Homo sapiens: one gene and its partners. The protein of the gene in region 1 purifies or fractionates together with the protein of each later gene. This does not show direct contact. Each region holds a gene or a part of one and is shown in the gene's direction. Other genes may lie near its edges. The genes, in order: SLAIN1, ZER1, DCAF10, PLS1 and ZYG11B.

Region 1 (3,519 bases):
ACACTAAATCCTTATGTGGAAATAGAAAATTGAAAACATTTCTAACGTAGAAACTCAAAATAAATTTTCATTATTATACAGGCATGTTGGCTTTAATCAAAGTAAGATTGATTTACTTTTTAAAAATGGATGTATAAATAGGACCCTAATTCACAAATTGTTTATTTTGTATATATTTTTTATTTAGATAAGTGGAAGTCAGTTAAGATAGTCCTATGAAAAGTTGCTTTGTCTTTTTTTTTTTTTTTATTCTCTTCCCTTTCTCCTTCTGACAAGTCAACATATGCTTCCATATAGCTAACTGCTGCTATTTTCTGCTTCTGTGACAGCTAGCCGATGGCGGAGTCTCTTCTCTTCAACTGCCTCACTGGCTTTTCCTTATAGTCCTGTTGCAAGACTCAGCCCTTATAGCAATGGCATTAATACTCCCAGCTTCTCTAAAACCTCAAATAAAGCAATACTAACACCTGAAAAAACAGGTAATATTTTAACTTCTTGACTAGCTGCTTGCTTTGTAATTCAGTTACTAAACACGGCTTAAATATTCATCTTTCATTTGAAAAGCTTGAGAATAATCTTAAGAGTGGAGAGTTTGTGCTGCACACTTACTTTGGGTACAAAAGGCCTAGCACTAATTTGTACTCTAACACCATTGATCTACTGCTCTCAATTTTATGTAGCAGACAGTCTTCCCTCTTTAGCAAAAGTATATGCATGCAGTTCTGTATTTCCAAATGCTTATGTGCTTTTAAAATTAAATGTCAAACACAATTAAGGTAGTTTTTATTATTCAAGATTGTAAGTCTGTATTTTTTTTAATTTTTTTCTGGTAGCTTTTAAATTTAGCTAAGGCTGTGTAGAAGAAAATAGTCATAGTGGCTTTTTATGAGATGAGGATCTCACCATTTTCTTATTTTTCTCAGCATTGGTATGATTCCATTCCTATAGCCTTCTTCTATTTGTTCTTTGGTTCTTTTATCTGAAGCCATTGATTTTTTTATCCTCATGGGTGGCTATAAGTCTCCCGTGACTACTCTCTGGTCTATATTATGTGGGTGTTGTATATATTTCTGCATATGTATGTGTGCCTTTTAGATGTGATATTCTTACCCATTTGTAGCACTGCTGTTTGTACTCATTAAGAAATGGACCAGATTAAAATTTAATTTAAAAATATATTATCAGTTACTGTCAGACAAGTGTGTCTTATTATTAAAGTATACATGAATATATATTCTTATAATATCATGCCTTTAGATATATACATATCTAATAGGATGTAGATTTTAGCAGTAGTGAATTTTTTATTGTGATAAAAAATATAATGTGAAATCTACCCTCTTAACAATTTAAGTATATAGTACATGGTGACTTTTTAAATTGTGAAAATTCAATTTGAAAACAATGAACAAGTGGTTTTGTATATATGAATTGTGTACACATGATGTGCACGTTGACCATTAAATGGTGACATGTTGGTGATTTTTGTAACATGAAAACATGAGACAAATTGCTGACTGTTTATATATGAATTGTGAAGCATGTATAGATATCAGTCCTGCAGATGGAAGAACACACTTTTCCTTTGTGTTTCAGGTTACACTTCCAGGGGCTCCCCACTCAGTCCCCAGTCATCTATCGACAGTGAGCTGAGTACTTCAGAATTGGAGGATGATTCTATCTCCATGGGATATAAATTACAGGACCTCACTGATGTTCAGATCATGGCTCGTCTGCAAGAAGAAAGTATGTGTTCTTTCTAAACTAGCAAAATGAGGCTTCCACTTGGAATATACAGGCAGAGGGGGAGGTTCAGGCATTTCTCTCCAGGTAATGGGCAAATAATTAGATTCTTTCTCTCATACTGTCCTACTTTTTAGGTGGAGCCAGTTATATGCTTCTCACACTATCATGAGGTGGTAGGACTTAGTCTGATGAAAACACATTGATACATGGACATTGCTGGTATTGTCACTGTGGAAACAGATGGACAGTTTCCTAAAAAACTAAAGGTGCAACTTCCATGTGGCCCAGCAAACTGCACTCTTGGATATTTATCCCAGAATAGTGGAAATTCGTGTTTACACAAAAACTTGCACGTGAATGTTCTGAGCACCTTTATAGCCCAAAACTGGAATTAGCTTAGAAGGCCTTCAGTGGGTAAATGATTAAACCAATCATGTTACATCTATACCATGGAGTATAACTCATCAATAAAGAGGAACAAACTACTGATATACACAACATCTTGCTTGAAGCTCCAGGGAATCATGGTGAATAAAAAATTTGATCATAAGAGAGTGCATACTGTATAATTCCACACATATAACATTTTGAGATGACAAAATGTTAGGAACAGAGGACAGACTAGTGGTTGGTGGAGTTAGGTATAGGGCTTAGGGTCTCAAGAGGGTCTCGAAGCTGGATGTAGTTATAAAAGGGCAACACAGGATTTTTGCAGTGTTGGTACTATTCATTGGTGGATCTTTGAACCTGTAGGTAATGAAATTGCATACAGCTTAATACTCTCTCTATCTCTTTCTGACACAGACACACACACACCCCCACACACCTGCGATAATCTGAATAAAATGAGTGGATTATATCACTGCCAATACCCTGGCTGTCATATTATTATAATTTTGCACAATGTTACCACTGGGGGAAACTGGGCAAAGTGTACAGTTTTGTTTTTTTTTAAGCACTGCATGTGAGTCTACAGTTATCTTAAAATTTCAGTTAAAATGCATTGACATACTTCTCCAGGTAAATAATTGTGAAAGAGTAGATAAGTAGAAATAGGATAGTTTTTCACTGGTTCTGCGATAAAGTTACAAAAAATTATCTGGGAGTGAACTAGTTGAAGGGCATTAATGGTATCAAAAGGCACAGAACTGGAGTGTTTGTTTTGGAGTTATCTTTTCCACCAACATAAGTAGAAATAATCAAGTATCATTTAAGCATAATAATTTCCTGTTTTCAGAATTAGTCAAGGCTTCTATGAGAAACATGGTAATGCTTATGCAGGATTTAATAGATACATTTTTAAGGGGAAAAGTGGTTATTTTATATAATTATTTAGTAAAAGCAAATTTAAATACTCTTTCTAAAAATATATATGGCTAAAAGATTGTATGTCAGTTTCAGAAGTTAAGTAGTCAGGGATAGACCACTTTTTTTAAAAATTGTAGTACTGGCAATGGGTTAAATAATGAGAACTTTGTAGTTTGACTATTTTTAGATGATTACCTTATAGGATGACCTAAAACTATTAGAAGTATTGAGGTGTCAGTGTGCTTTGAAAGAGATAATATTAGTAACATAAAAGAACAATAGAGAGATGACCTTGTGGGAAAATATTTGTACCTCGGCTTTTAAACTTTCCCTTTGACTTTAAAAGTTGGGGGTGGGGAGCAGAATGACTTCCTACTTGGGCAGAGATTTGAAGATTTTAGTTGTTTTAACTCATAGCAAACTATTCATAATGAGATGAATATTTCTTCCTAAGTTCCCCTTCTA
Region 2 (3,519 bases), on another chromosome or scaffold:
TAAGTCATTAAGTACTAATTGATGCGGCCCATTGGCTCTCCTTTTCCCAGGAATTCCCAGAGAAGCAGGAACTGCATAGGAATATGCTAGGACTTTTGGGGAATGTGGCAGAAGTGAAGGAGCTGAGGCCTCAACTAATGACTTCCCAGTTCATCAGCGTCTTCAGGTTGGTATTTTTAATCCTTTCCCTTTTTGCCTTAGCTGCCACAATGCTCAGAGCTCTAGCGTTTGCTCAGTTGCACAACTGCTCTTAGCCTAGGTTTGCTATAAATGTCATTTTCCCTCGATAATGTGGTTTCTTATTCATTCAATCCTTCGTAAGTGGTCCTTTTGTAATTATATCTTTTTTTTTTTTTTTGAGATGGAGTCTTGCTCTGTCACCCAGGCTGAAGTGCAGTGGCACAATCTAGGCTCACTGCAAGCTCTGCCTCCCGGGTTCACGCCATTCTCCTGCCTCAGCCTCCCGAGTAGCTGAGACTACAGGCGCCTGCCACCACGCCCAGCTAATTTTTTTGTATTTTTAGTAGAGATGGGGTTTCACCATGTTAGCCAGGATGGTCTCGATCTCCGGACCTCGTGATCCACCTGCCTTGACCTCCCAAAGTGCTGGGATTACAGGCGTGAGCCACTGCGCCCAGCCTGTAATTATATCTTAAATGACCTCAAATCCCTTTAGAAGTAGTCTGGGTATATAGACGATATGGGATAAAGAAATAAGTAGCACCTCTTGCTTCTGGTTTTAAGTTGGGGTCCTGCCGCTGGTATCTGAAGAGAAACTGGGGGAGTGGGACTCCATTTTTCTGTCTTTCTCCTGGCAGCAACCTGTTGGAGAGCAAGGCCGATGGGATCGAGGTTTCCTACAATGCCTGCGGCGTCCTCTCCCACATCATGTTTGATGGACCCGAGGCCTGGGGCGTCTGTGAGCCCCAGCGTGAGGAGGTGGAGGAACGCATGTGGGCTGCCATCCAGAGCTGGGACATAAACTCTCGGAGAAACATCAATTACAGGTGTGGGCAGGGCAGGGAGCGGGGATGCGGTGTGGAATATGGGGTAAGTGCTGGGCAGGATGCTCATACCATTAAGGTCTGCTCAGAGCTCCCACCTTCCTTCTGGTCTTCTGTAGGGTTCTGCTTTCACTCATTGATACGTAGCCGCACACAGCACAGAGCATACATAAGGGCACGATCTCATCCGTGCAGCCTGGAGCATTTGTCATACATGCCAACATCTGCATGTACCCAAAGCCTGCTCTTTGCAAACCACTAATACCTACTGATTTGTGGGGAGGGGTGGGGAGAAAATAGACACACAACAGAAAACCATACAGGTGGGCCGGGCACAGTAGCTCTTGCCCATAATCCCAGCACTTTGGGAAGCTGAGACAGGAGGATCACTTGAGCCCAAGATTTCCTTTCTTTTCTTTTTTTTTTTTTTTTGAGACAGAGTCTTGCTCTGTCGCCCAGGCTGGAGTGCAGTGGTGCAATCTCAGCTGACTGCAAGCTCTGCCTCCTGGGTTCACGCCATTTTCCTGCCTCAGCCTCAGAGTAGCTGGGATTACAGGCACCCGCCACCACGCCCGGTTAATTTTTTTGTATTTTTAGTAGAGACGAGTTTTCACCGTGTTAGCCAGGATAGTTTCGATCTCCTGACCTCGTGATCCGCCCACGTCGGCCTCCCAAAGTGCTGGGATTACAGGCATGAGCCACTGCGTCCAGCTGAGCCCAAGATTTCAAGACCAGCTTGGGCAACATAGTGAGACTTCCTCTTTACGAAAAATTTTAAAAATCAGGCCAGGTGCAGTGGTTCACGCCTGTAATCATAGCACTTTAGGAGGCTGAGGCGGGCAGATCACGAGGTCAGGAGTTCAAGACCAGCCTGCCCAACATGGTGAAACCCCGTCCCTACTAAAAATACAAAAATTAACCTGGCGTGGTGGCACATACCTGTAATCCCAGCTACTCAGGAGGCTGAGGCAGGAGAATCGCTTGAACCCAGGAGGCAGAGGTTGCAGTGAACCGAGATGGCGCCACTGCATTCCAGCCTGGGCAACAGACCAAGACTCCATCTCAAAAAAAAAAAAAAAAAAAAATGAGCTGGGTGTGATGGTGCACACCTGTAGTCCCACCTACTGGGGAGGCTGAGGCAGGAGGGTCACTTGAGCCCAGGAGGTCGAGGCTGTAGTGAGCCAACATCATGCTACTGCACTCCAGCCTAGGGGACAGAATGAGACCATTTCTTTAAAAAAAAGAAGAAGGTCAGGCGCGGTGGCTCACACCCGTAATCCCAGCACTTTGGGAGGCAGAGGCGGGCGGATCATGAGGTCAGGAAATCGAGACCATCTTGGCTAACGCAGTGAAACCCCACCTCTACTAAAAATACAAAAAATTAGCCGGGCGTGGTGGCATGCGCCTGTAGTCCCAGCTACTCGGGAGGCTGAGGCAGGAGAATGGTGTGAACCTGGGAGGCGGAGCTTGCAGTTAGCCGAGATCGCGCCACTGCACTCCAGCCTGGGCGACAGAGCGAGACTCCGTCTCAAAAATAAATAAATAAAAATAAAAATAAAAATAAATTAAAAAAACAAGAAAACAAAACAGGGCCGGGCACAGTGGCTCACACCTGTAATCCCAGCACTTTGGGAGGCAGAGGCGGGCAGATCATGAGGTCAGGAAATCGAGACCATCTTGGCTAACGCAGTGAAACCCCACCTCTACTAAAAATACAAAAAATTAGCCGGGCGTGGTGGCATGCGCCTGTAGTCCCAGCTACTCGGGAGGCTGAGGCAGGAGAATGGCGTGAACCTGGGAGGCGGAGCTTGCAGTTAGCCAAGATCGCGCCACTGCACTCCAGCCTGGGCGACAGAGCGAGACTCCGTCTCAAAAATAAATAAATAAAAATAAAAATAAAAATGAATAAAAAAAACAAGAAAACAAAACAGGGCCGGGCACAGTGGCTCACACCTGTAATCCCAGCACTTTGGGAGGCTGAGGCAGGCGGATCACCTGAGGTCAGGAGTTCGAAACCAGCCTGGCCAACACAGTGAAACCCCATCTCTGCTAAAAATACAAAAATTAGCCAGGCATGGTGGTGGGCACCTGTAATCCCAGCTACTTGGGAGGCTGAGGCAGGAGAATCACTTGAACCTGGAAGGCAGAGGTTGCAGTGAGCCAAGAACTCGCCACTGCACTCCAGCCTGGGCAACAGAGTGATACTCCATCTCAAAAAAAAAAGAAGAAGAAGAAAACAAGAATCGTTCATAATCTCACTCCCTGAAAGAGAACTCCTGTTGACATTTTGGTGTGTCTCCTTCCAGCAGTGTTTCTATGCACAGATTTCATTACTTTAAGTCAAGCTGGCATCAATTCCTACTGTTTTGTGACTGACTGGCCAATCACCAGGCATGGATCTCCCTCGTCATTTTAGGACGGAGTCACTTTCTTTGTGCCATCCTGTACAGATGGACATTTCAGTTGAAAACCCATACTGGGAGGAACAGGCTGACATTGGTAGCGTTGCCAGTGT
Region 3 (3,519 bases), on another chromosome or scaffold:
CTCTGGAGGCTGAGGCATGAGAATCACTTGAATGTAGGAGGTAGAGGTTGCAGTGAGCACCTGGGGGATAAAGCGTGACTCTGTCTCCAAAAAAAAAAAAATTAAAAAGAAAAAAGGTTTCAGTTCTTCATACAGTGAACACTATTCAGCCATTAAACATGATTTTGTTAATAAACCTTTAATAATGGCAATATGTTTTTGAGATAATATTAGGTTTAAAACAGAAATTAAGCTAAACATCAATAAAGTGGTTATTTTTGGTGATGGATTTTTTTTTTCTTTTTCTTTTTTTTGAGACGGAATCTTGCTCTGTGCCCCAGCTGGAGTGCAGTGGCACGATCTCAGCTCACTGCAACATCCGCCTCCCGGGTTCAAGCAATTCTCTGCCTCTGCCTCAGCCTCCGAGTAGCTGGGATTACAGGCGCCCGCCACCATGCCCAGCTAATTTTTTTTGTATTTTTAGTAGAGACAGGGTTTCACCATCTCGGCCAGGCTGGTCTTGAACTCCTGACCTTGTGATCCACCCGCCTCAGCCTCTCAAAGTGCTGGGATTACAGGCGTGAGCCACTGCGCCCAGCCGATTTTTTTTCATTAAAAATATTTTCAGTAGAAATGTTTTTTGTTATCGTTATTTTTAAAATAAGAGATGGGGTTTCGTCATGTTGCCCAGGCTGGTCTCAAACTCCTGAGCTCAAGTGATCCATCCATCTTGGCCTTCCAAAATGTTGGGATTATAGGTATGAGCTACCACGCTTGGCCAGGAAATGTATTTTTATAATTAAAAAATAGTTACTGGTAATCACCATAGAATAAATCCATAATGTATTCCCTAGTCATCTCTACTTTCCCACACACAGCACTCCTAACTGCTGCTTCTCAGAGGGCACCATCCGCTCACATGCCTGTGTATCTTTGCTTAGTAACCCTGACCACTTAGGGAGTTCCTGCTCATCTTTTATTCAGTTCAAATGATAACATCATGAAGTCTTTCCCAGCCACCCTCTTTGCTTATTCCACACAATTATTTCGTGTAATTATGTACTTACAGTGTCTTTTCTGCTAGGCAGTGAACTTCTCTTTCATTTATTTTGTAAGTATTTGTTGAGTGCATATGTGTCTGGCACCATGTGTATTGTATACTGCAGATCTAACCATGACCCTAGGCAGACAGGTTCCTTCTGTCTTCAGGGAGTTTACAGTAAAGTTGTTCCTTACAGTATAATATTAAGTATTATGATAGAAGCTCCCAGAATGCTTTGGGAGCTCAGAGAATTGGTAGGTCTACCAGGCTGGTTAAACAAGGAAGGCTTCCTGGAGGGCATAACAGCTGAATACAGTTATATGCCACATAACAACATTTCAGTGAGTGACACCATATACAACAGTGGTTCCAGAAGATTATAATGGAGCTGAAAAATTCCTATTGCCTAATACTTACTATGTTATACTTATTATTGTTATTTTAGAATGTACTCCTACTTAAAAAAAAATTAAACTGTAAAACAGCCTCAGGGAGGTTCTTCAGGAGGTATTCCAGGAGAAGCCATTGTTATCAGGAGATGACAGCTCTGTTCCTGTTATTGCCCCTGGAGGCCTTCCAGTGGGGCAAGATGTGGAGATGGAAGACAGTGATATTGATGATTTTTACCCTGTGTAGAACTAGGCTAATGTGTGTCTTTGTTTTTAACAAAAAAGTTTAAAAAGTAAACATTTTAATAGAAAAAAGTTAATAAAATAAGGCTATAAAGAAAGAAAATATTTTTGTACAGTTGTACAATGTGTTTGTGTTTAAGCTGTTATTACAAAAGAGTCAAAAGTTTAAAAAATTAAAAATTCATGAAGTAAAAAAAGTTATAGTAATCGAAGGTTAATTTATTACTGATGAAAAATTTTTAAATTAATTTAGTGTAGCCTAAGTGTACAGTCTTTATAATGTCTACAGTAATGGACAGTAATGCCCTAGGCCTTCACACTGACTCACCCCTCACTCACTGACTCACCCAGAGCAACTCCCACGCCTGCAAGCTCCATTCATGGTAAGTGCCCTATACAGGCGTAACATTTTAAATCTTTTATACAGTACTTTTACTGTATTTTTTCTATCTTTCAATATACAAATACTTACGATTGTGTTACAGTTGCCTACAGTATTTAGTATGGTAACATGCTGTGCACATTTGTAGCCTATGAGTGATAGGCTATATACCATATATACCATATAACCTCAGTGTGTACCATCTAGGTTTGTGTAAGTTCATTCTATGATGTTCACACAACAACAAAATCACCTAAGGACACATTTCTCAGAATGTATTCCATCATTAAGTGACACATGATGGTATTAAAAAGAAAGCAAGAATTAGCCAGATCCAGGGGCAGGAGGAAGGTTGTTTCACCTAGCAGAAACAACCTGTGTAAACGCCTGGTATTTGAAAACCGTGATCAATTTTAGGAAGGTCGTTATGGTGTTTGTGGATATTGAGGTTGATTTCTGACAATTATATGTAAATTTATCTTAGAAGAAGCACCAGAATTCATTTCTTCTGTAAGAGATTAGGATAACAGCATGTATTACAGAAAGCATCCTAATGTTAAATTAAGCAAAAATTCAAGTGTGAATAGTAGTTTATTTTTTAAGTATTTGTATTAAATATATTCTCACTAAGGATTGAGAAGTTAGTGTAAAATAATAAAAAGTCTGAATTATAGAGTATTTTAAGCCTATTTTGTAATTTTCTTGATTGGTCCTAATAAAATGTTGCTAAGAGATTATTTGGGAAATACCTTTCAGTTAAAAGATTTAAAATAATGGCAATTTTATAGCAATTTTTGTATGTAACTGTGTTCTAAATAGAAAAAGATGTTCCTTGTAGCAGAGCAAATATTTCTCATGATTTTGATTATGTGTAATGTGTCCCTCTCGGCAATCAAGTCTTCAAAACTTCCTCTATCGCCTATTAAATTCTCTCTCATCATTTTTGTTTCCTATAGAGATTCTGAAGTTCTTTTTTTCCCTTCTGTCACTGTTTTCCAAACACTTACCCCTATTTCCAATTTCAAATAAAAATCAGTAATTTAAAGCAAATGGATCCAATTGCAATATGACTGTCATTAAATCATAGTATCCTGGCTCTGTGATTATGCAAAGTATACTTTTTATAGTATATCAGTCATTGGGTTTACATAGTGAGTGTGTAGTCCTTTTTTTCTTTCTTTCTTGACTAGGTAATATAGTGACTGTTTCTCAAATCAATTTTCCTTTAAAAAGAGATTAAATGAACCAGGGTTTTGTTTTTCTGCTTTTATAGATTTCTTGATAACCGGCTGTTTGCTACCTGCTCTGATGACACTACAATAGCACTATGGGATCTGAGAAAATTGAACACCAAAGTATGCACTTTACATGGTCACACTAGCTGGGTGAAGAACATCGAATATGATACTAATACAAGACTCTTAGTAACATCAGGATTTGATGGAAATGTCATTATTTGGGACACTAACAGGTTTGTGAATAGG
Region 4 (3,519 bases), on another chromosome or scaffold:
GCTACTCAGGAGGCTGAGGCAGGAGAATGGCGTGAGCCCAGGAGGCGGAGCTTGCAGTGAGCCAAGATAGTGCCATTGCACTCCAGCTTGGGTGACAGAGTGAGACTCCGTCTCAAAAAAAATAAATAAAAAAGAGGATGGGCTCGGGAGACCGCTGGGATCAGACCCCGGCCTTTCCACTGTGGAAACTGTCAGTGCTGCAGTTTCCTCATCTGTAAAATCCATCTTAAGAGTTACTTTAAAATTATCTTAAAACCTAATTGTACATCATTTTTTAAAGAAGTGCTTCCAAATGAGCACTTTACAAAAATATCATGTTGAGTTTGAGGTATTGGCAGAACATCCAGGTAGACATAACCAAGTACATATATAGATACACAGCTTAGAGTGGAGACTCAGAGGAGGTCTGGGTGGAAATAGGGATTTGAAAGTCATTGGCATATAAAGTAACAGTTAAAACCATGTGTTTTTTTTTTTGAGTAGTGGTATTTTCGTTGTATAAATATTATGTTTATAAATCTGAAATTTGGCAGTCCATTGTTTCTTATAGATAATTTTTATAGATAAGACCTTAGAAAGGACTTCCTCATGTGTACTTTTTTTTTTGGCAATTCAGGAAAATTTAAACCTAGCTCTGAATTCTGCCTCAGCCATTGGTTGTACAGTGGTCAACATTGGTGCATCAGATCTCAAAGAAGGAAAACCTCACTTGGTCTTGGGACTTCTCTGGCAGATCATCAAAGTTGGCCTTTTTGCTGATATTGAGATTTCCAGGAATGAAGGTAAGATCATTAGAAATATTTGCTGTTCATTGACATGTACTTGCTATGGGAAGAATTTACATTTCGCTGTTTTGCCCTCAGCTCTGATTGCATTGTTAAATGAAGGTGAGGAACTAGAGGAGCTGATGAAGCTTTCTCCCGAGGAATTACTGCTGCGATGGGTGAACTACCATCTGACCAATGCAGGATGGCATACCATCAGCAACTTCAGCCAAGACATTAAGGTTTATATTTAAATGTTCAAATTTGTGACATGAAATAAGGATGTGCAGTGTAAAAATAAAAGGGGTTCAGACTTAAATTTGAATTAAATTCACAAGAACACTTGGGATAGAAAATGAAAATTTGCATTACTGTGTGAAGTAGATCCCCCAATTATATTCACAAAATATATATTTTCTAAAAACCAGATATATTGGCTTTTAATAAGAACTACAACTGACTGTGAGAGGAAAGAGGTGCTAGCCTCAACAGATTAAAACACACTTTCTCATTTTTTATGCCTGAGATCTGCTAGATTATAATGAGGATGTCAGTCTGTTCATTTGGACTAATAATTATATCTGTTTACTGGTTTAACACTCTTACTCCCACTTTGCCAATAACCAGCTAACAGGAAATCAGATTATCTGAGGGTACAGAGAATCAGTAAATAAAGGGGATCTTAAGGTATGTGCCTTAACCAGGGTAGCTTAAAACACTTCCCTCTCTACTGGGAGAATCTTGTCAAGGAAACTATAACAGGCATTTTTGTCTAATGACAACTTTCCCTTGGTTACTGCCTGGATGGGCATTGCCAAGCCGGGTCGCTGTGACTTTTTTCTTCTCTCTGTTTCTTTATGTCCTCCCCCATCCTGCCCCCCAAGAGTAATCAGTGCTGGCTCTAATTCATGTTCCGTCTTTAGCTATATAACCTTCAGTCAGGTTATCTTTTTCCATAATGGCCTACAGGACAGTCTCTCAATTTGAAGTGACATTTTATTTCTCTGCTTTCATCTACTATACACTGTTATATTTGAAAGTTTATTTGGGAGATTTCTCTTATTCTGAAATCTCTGAAAATTCAGCTAATCAAACATTTATTCAGCTCTTTCTGAGGGGCATTATGCCCAGGCGATGCAAAGACTCAGCTCTTGAGAAGCTTGCCAATTCTACTCAGAGACAAACATGTACCAGAGGGATATTTCAGTTATCTATTGCTATATAGCAAATTATGCAAAATTTGCTTAAATAATGATTATTTCTCATCATTTTGTGGGTTGATGCATCTTGGCTGGGTGGTTCTTCTGCTTCACATGGTTTTGGCTGGGATTACTAACTCGATTACATTCAGCTGTCAGTTGGGCTCATCTGGAAAGTACACAAAGGCCTCAGTCACATGTCTGGTGCCTCAGTGCTCCTCCACAAGGCCTCTCTACATGGTGAGCTCAGGCTTCCTCACAGCATGATAGTCTCAGATAGTTGGACTTCTTATGTAGAGGTTAACTTTAAGAGAGAGGAAGCAGAAGCTCTTAAGATTTGGGCGTGGAAGCCCCAGAACATCACTTTCACAGCATTCTCTTAGTTAACGTGAATCATAAGGCCTGTCCAAATTAAAGAGGACAGGAAATAGCTTCTGCCTTTTGGTGGGAAGAGTTAATGTATGCATGGGGAAGAACTATATATCCATCTTTGGAGACAATGACATTAGATGATTTAATAGTGTGATCACTGTTTACTTATTAAGATAGGCAAGGGGTGCTGTGCACTACAGAAGAGGGGTTCTTAGTTCATCCTAGAGAATCCAGGGAAGGCATACGGGAGATAATACTTGACCTGAATCTTAACTGATGTTGATGCTTGGGTGTGTAAACAGATGGAAAAGTAAGGGAGGGTATCCAGGTGCAGGAAACAGCATTGCTATAAACTCTGAGGTGTGAAACAGGATTGCTTTGAAGCTCTGAAGTGTGAAACAGCATGGTACATTCAGGAACCTACAAGTAATTCTTTATTTTTAAAGTTATTCCATTCTTTGAGATAGAGGCAATTTCTTCAGTTTGAGCACTTGTTTTCCCTAAATTCAATGATGATTTTATTCGTTTTAAAAATGCTATTTCATATCTTTCCTTGAAGGACTCGAGAGCCTATTTTCATCTGCTTAATCAGATTGCCCCTAAAGGTGGGGAAGATGGACCTGCCATTGCCATTGACCTTTCAGGAATTAATGTGAGTGCAATTTTTAACTTTTAAAATATATTGTGGTAAAACAGACGTAGAAAATTTACCATTTTTATCATTTTCAGTGTTCAGTTCAGTGGCATTCAGTACATTTGCATTGTTGTGCAGCTATCACCATTATCCATCTCTACAAACTTTTCATCATCCTGTAGGGAAATTCTGTACTCATTAAACAATAACTCCCCATTTTCCCCTTCCCCCAGGCCCTGGTAACTACTGTTCTACTTTTTGACTATGAATTTGAATTTCAGTAGCAGGTACAGTCAAATTTAGAGTACAGTTCTCTACAAGCAGCATTCCCCAGTAGAGCCCTCAGCCCTCCATTAAAGTTTGGTGCTTTGCTCTATGGAAGTTTTTTCCATGCCCAAGGCTCCAAGCCTCCATGTCAAGCCAACTGGCTATCATGACGGAAGAAAGGGAACTGCGTAATTGTGACCTGGAGTATTTGTGGAATCAATCCTACATTCATGTTTCCCTGGTGCAAGGCAATTGGAACTCACCAGGGTGCTCTTTTGACTGT
Region 5 (3,519 bases), on another chromosome or scaffold:
CTCCAGCCTGGGCAAAAAGAGTGAAACTCCATCTCAAAAAAAAAAAATTATTAACCCAACATAGGAGGTTATTTTCCTTAGATAAAGCTCATGCGTGGAAGCAATTGTATACAAAGACAGAATTATTTCCTATTTCAGTAAAATTTACAAACAAGCCTCAGCTAGTTCTCTGTAGGATCATCATTCTAGTCATTTTCAGAGTATCTTGCATTGAATTTCTGTACGTAAAATTATCTTAAGTTACTGAGAAAGTTTTATCAGATTTTACTCTGTGGTAAAATTTGTATATCAAACCTTTTATAGGTTCCCTGATTTCAAAATAATAGTAATATCTCTTAAATAGAATGTTAGTTTTTATTCTTTTTTATTAAATGTGTTTGTTCTAGAGGTCATGCTTAATGATTTCCAAGAGTATATTTTTTGTATAGTTTTTGTGAGGCTGGGCATGGTGGCTCACGCCTGTAATCCACATCTATAATCCCAACACTTTGGGAGACAAAGGTGGGTGGATTGCTTGAGCCCAGGAGTTCGAGACCAGCCTGGACAAGATAGTGAGACCCTATCTCTACACAGAATGAAAAAATTAGCGCACATCTGGGGTCTCAGCTACACAGGATGCTGAGGTGGGAGGATTGCTTGAGCCTAGGAGGTTGAAGCTGCAGTGAGCAGGGTTCACACCACTGCACTCCAGGCTGGGCAACAGAGCAAGACACTGTAAGATCAATCAATCAATCAATCAGAGATATCTTGATGTATCATTTAAGAATCATGATCAGATAAATGTACTCATTCTTGTATTTCATCATCAATGTACTTATATTTCTTGTCTTTAACAGTTTGTTATACAAAGAAAAGCTACTGCATTCAGTGTTCAGATTAAGTTATAACAATGCAATGACTTTATCATGAGCCATTCTCCTAATTCCCACTAATTGACACACATTCAGTAGATAAATTGTTGGATACTCTCAAACTATTCTATTTTTATAAAGGAGAAAATTTTAGATAATTATTAAATATTCAAAAATATACAAATTGAAATAGACATAATTTTTTTTTGTTTTGTTTTTTCATAGTGACAGGGTCTTGCTCTGTGGCCCAGGCTGGAGTGCAGGGGCGTAATCATAGCTCACTATAACCATGAACTCCTGGGCTTAGATGATCTCTTGCTTCATCCTCCTGAGTTGCTGGGACCACAGGCATATGCCAGCATGCCCAGCTAATTTTTTTTATTTTTGTAGAGGTAGGGTCTAGATTATGTTGCCAGGCTGGTCTCAAACTCCTGGGCTCAAGTGATCCTACTGCCTCAGCCCATCAAAGTGCTGGGATGTCAAGCCATGAGCCCGGCAGACATCAATATTGAATGTAATGATGTGAGCCTGTAGATGAATTGGGAAATGCTGGCTAAAACACTGCTTTTTTCATAGGTCCTAAAACTAGCTCTTAAAGTATATTTAATAAGCGGTAGAAATAGTCATTATTAACAATGGAATAAAAGGTTTTTTTTTTTAAAGAGTCTCAATCTGTTGCCATCTCAAAAAAAAATAAAAAATAAAAAATTAGCTGGGTGTGGTAGCGCATGCCTGTGATACCAGCTACTCAGAAGGCTGAGGCAGGAGAACCACTTGAACCTGGGAGGCGGAGGTTGCAGTGAGCCGAGATCGCGCCATTGCACTCCAGCCTGGGCAACAAGAGTGAAACTCTGGCTCCAAAAAAAAAAAAAGTGATTTGGCAGTATGAGTTCAAGAACCACAAAATTGTACACACTCTCTGACCAATTTTCTTTTTCTTTTTCTTTTATTTTGAGATGGAGTTTCGCTCTTGTTGCCCAGGTTGGAGTGCAATGGTGCAATCTGGGCTCAACACAACGTCCACCTCCCGGGTTCAAACGATTTTCCTGCCTCAGCCCCCCGAGTAGCTGGGATTACAGGCATGTGCCACCGTGCTCAGCTAATTTTTGTATTTTTGGTAGAGACAGGGTTTCTCCATGTTGGTCAGGCTTGTCTTGAACTCCTGACCTCAGGTGATCCGCCCGCCTTGGCTTCCCAAAGTTTTGGGATTACAGGTATGAGCCACTGCGCCCGGTCCAAATCACTTTTTTTTTTTTTGAGACGGAGTTTCTCTCGTTGCCCAGGCTGGAGTGCAATGGCGCGATCTCGGCTCACCGCAGCCTCCGCCTCCCAGGTTCAAGCGGTTCTCCTGCCTTAGCCTCCCTAGTAGCTGGGATTACAGGCATGTGCCACCATGCCTGGCTAATTTTGTATTTTTAGTAGAGAGGGGTTTCTCCATGTTGGTCAGGCTGGTATCGAACTCCCAACCTCTGGTGATCCGCCTGCCTCGGCCTCCCAGAGTGCTGGGATTACAGGCATGAGCCACCGTGCCCGGCCCAAATCACTTTTCTAAAGCACTTTGAAGAACAATATGTCTTCAGCACTTAAGTATTTCTTTGACAAACTTAATGCTACAAGTATTATTCTCACACTAAGTAATTGTGATTAAGATTTTTCAGGCTCATAAATGAAAGAAAAAGAAATTGTATAGTAACTAGGCAAGGGTGGAATGAGAAAAGACTGGAGGCGTGCCACTCTTCCTACTCAGAATTTTTTTTATTTTGAGACAGAGTCTCTCTCTGCCACCCAGACTGGAGTGCAGTGGCGCGATCTCGGCTCACTGCAGCCTCCGCCTCCCGAGTTCAAGTGATTCTCCTGCCTCAGCCTTCTGAATAGCTGGAACTACAGGCGCCCACTGCCATGCCCGGCTAATTTTTGTATTTTTTAGAAGAGATGGGGTTTCACTATGTTGGCTAGGCTGGTCTCGAACTCCTGACCTCAAGTGATCTGCCTGCCTTGGTCTTCCTACTCAGAAGTTTTAAATTCCTCCCTATTGTCTGAGACAATAGACCCTGTGAAGATACCTTTTTAACACTGAAAACCTTGAGAGACAGGACAGTAACATACTTTCAGAACATATTAATTGTGGGGGAGAAAAAGCAAAAAGCAGGTCCAGTAGGAATTCAGTAATATTTTAAAATGATACTCTGTTAAGTCTAACATCTATTATGCATTAAAAATATCAAGATATTATTGTGTACAGAGTGTACTTGATATGCATGGGAATTTGTGAACTCCTTAAGATCCTTGTGGAGCCTGCAGTTTCGGCCCTGCTAGTTTACAGTGGTCTTACAGGGCTGCTGTGCTATACAGATTGTACTGCACAATTCAGCTAACAGCCATTCATATAGACAGCAGTGAATCTACAGAGATCTGTATCCTGTGTACTTGGTGATGTCTAGCACATAGTAGGGACTCAGCAAATAGTTGTTGAATGAAAGTGTTTTATTTATTTATTTATTTATTGAGACAGAGTTTCTCTCTGTCACCCAAGCTGAAGTGCAGTGGCGTGATCTCAGCTCACTAGAACCTCTGCCTCCCGGGATCAAGTGATTCTCCCACCTCAGCCTCCTGAGTATCACAGGCATGCACTACCATGCCCAGCTAATTTTTTTCTTTTTCTTTTTTT

The links.
Region 2: the proteins of SLAIN1 (region 1) and ZER1 purify together in Homo sapiens (affinity purification with mass spectrometry; one large-scale study listed by BioGRID and IntAct). This does not show direct contact.
Region 3: the proteins of SLAIN1 (region 1) and DCAF10 purify together in Homo sapiens (affinity purification with mass spectrometry; one large-scale study listed by BioGRID and IntAct). This does not show direct contact.
Region 4: the proteins of SLAIN1 (region 1) and PLS1 purify together in Homo sapiens (affinity purification with mass spectrometry; one large-scale study listed by BioGRID and IntAct). This does not show direct contact.
Region 5: the proteins of SLAIN1 (region 1) and ZYG11B purify together in Homo sapiens (affinity purification with mass spectrometry; one large-scale study listed by BioGRID and IntAct). This does not show direct contact.

The regions. Positions count from the first base shown.
Region 1 is NC_000013.11:77,742,687-77,746,205, forward strand, and holds part of SLAIN1 (SLAIN motif-containing protein 1), read left to right. Parts: intron 1-329; coding exon of another isoform or gene 330-479; intron 480-1,596; coding exon 1,597-1,746; exon of another isoform or gene 1,747-1,772; coding exon of another isoform or gene 1,773-1,830; intron 1,831-3,519. UniProt on the Homo sapiens protein: Microtubule plus-end tracking protein that might be involved in the regulation of cytoplasmic microtubule dynamics, microtubule organization and microtubule elongation.
Region 2 is NC_000009.12:128,737,419-128,740,937, reverse strand, and holds part of ZER1 (protein zer-1 homolog), read left to right. Parts: intron 1-50; coding exon 51-166; intron 167-818; coding exon 819-1,007; intron 1,008-3,519. UniProt on the Homo sapiens protein: Serves as substrate adapter subunit in the E3 ubiquitin ligase complex ZYG11B-CUL2-Elongin BC. Acts to target substrates bearing N-terminal degrons for proteasomal degradation with the first four residues of substrates being the key recognition elements.
Region 3 is NC_000009.12:37,838,781-37,842,299, forward strand, and holds part of DCAF10 (DDB1- and CUL4-associated factor 10), read left to right. Parts: intron 1-3,308; coding exon 3,309-3,506; intron 3,507-3,519. UniProt on the Homo sapiens protein: May function as a substrate receptor for CUL4-DDB1 E3 ubiquitin-protein ligase complex.
Region 4 is NC_000003.12:142,683,390-142,686,908, forward strand, and holds part of PLS1 (plastin-1), read left to right. Parts: intron 1-616; coding exon 617-782; intron 783-863; coding exon 864-1,006; intron 1,007-2,894; coding exon 2,895-2,987; intron 2,988-3,519. UniProt on the Homo sapiens protein: Actin-bundling protein. In the inner ear, it is required for stereocilia formation. Mediates liquid packing of actin filaments that is necessary for stereocilia to grow to their proper dimensions.
Region 5 is NC_000001.11:52,732,942-52,736,460, forward strand, and holds part of ZYG11B (protein zyg-11 homolog B), read left to right. Parts: intron 1-3,519. UniProt on the Homo sapiens protein: Serves as substrate adapter subunit in the E3 ubiquitin ligase complex ZYG11B-CUL2-Elongin BC. Acts to target substrates bearing N-terminal degrons for proteasomal degradation with the first four residues of substrates being the key recognition elements.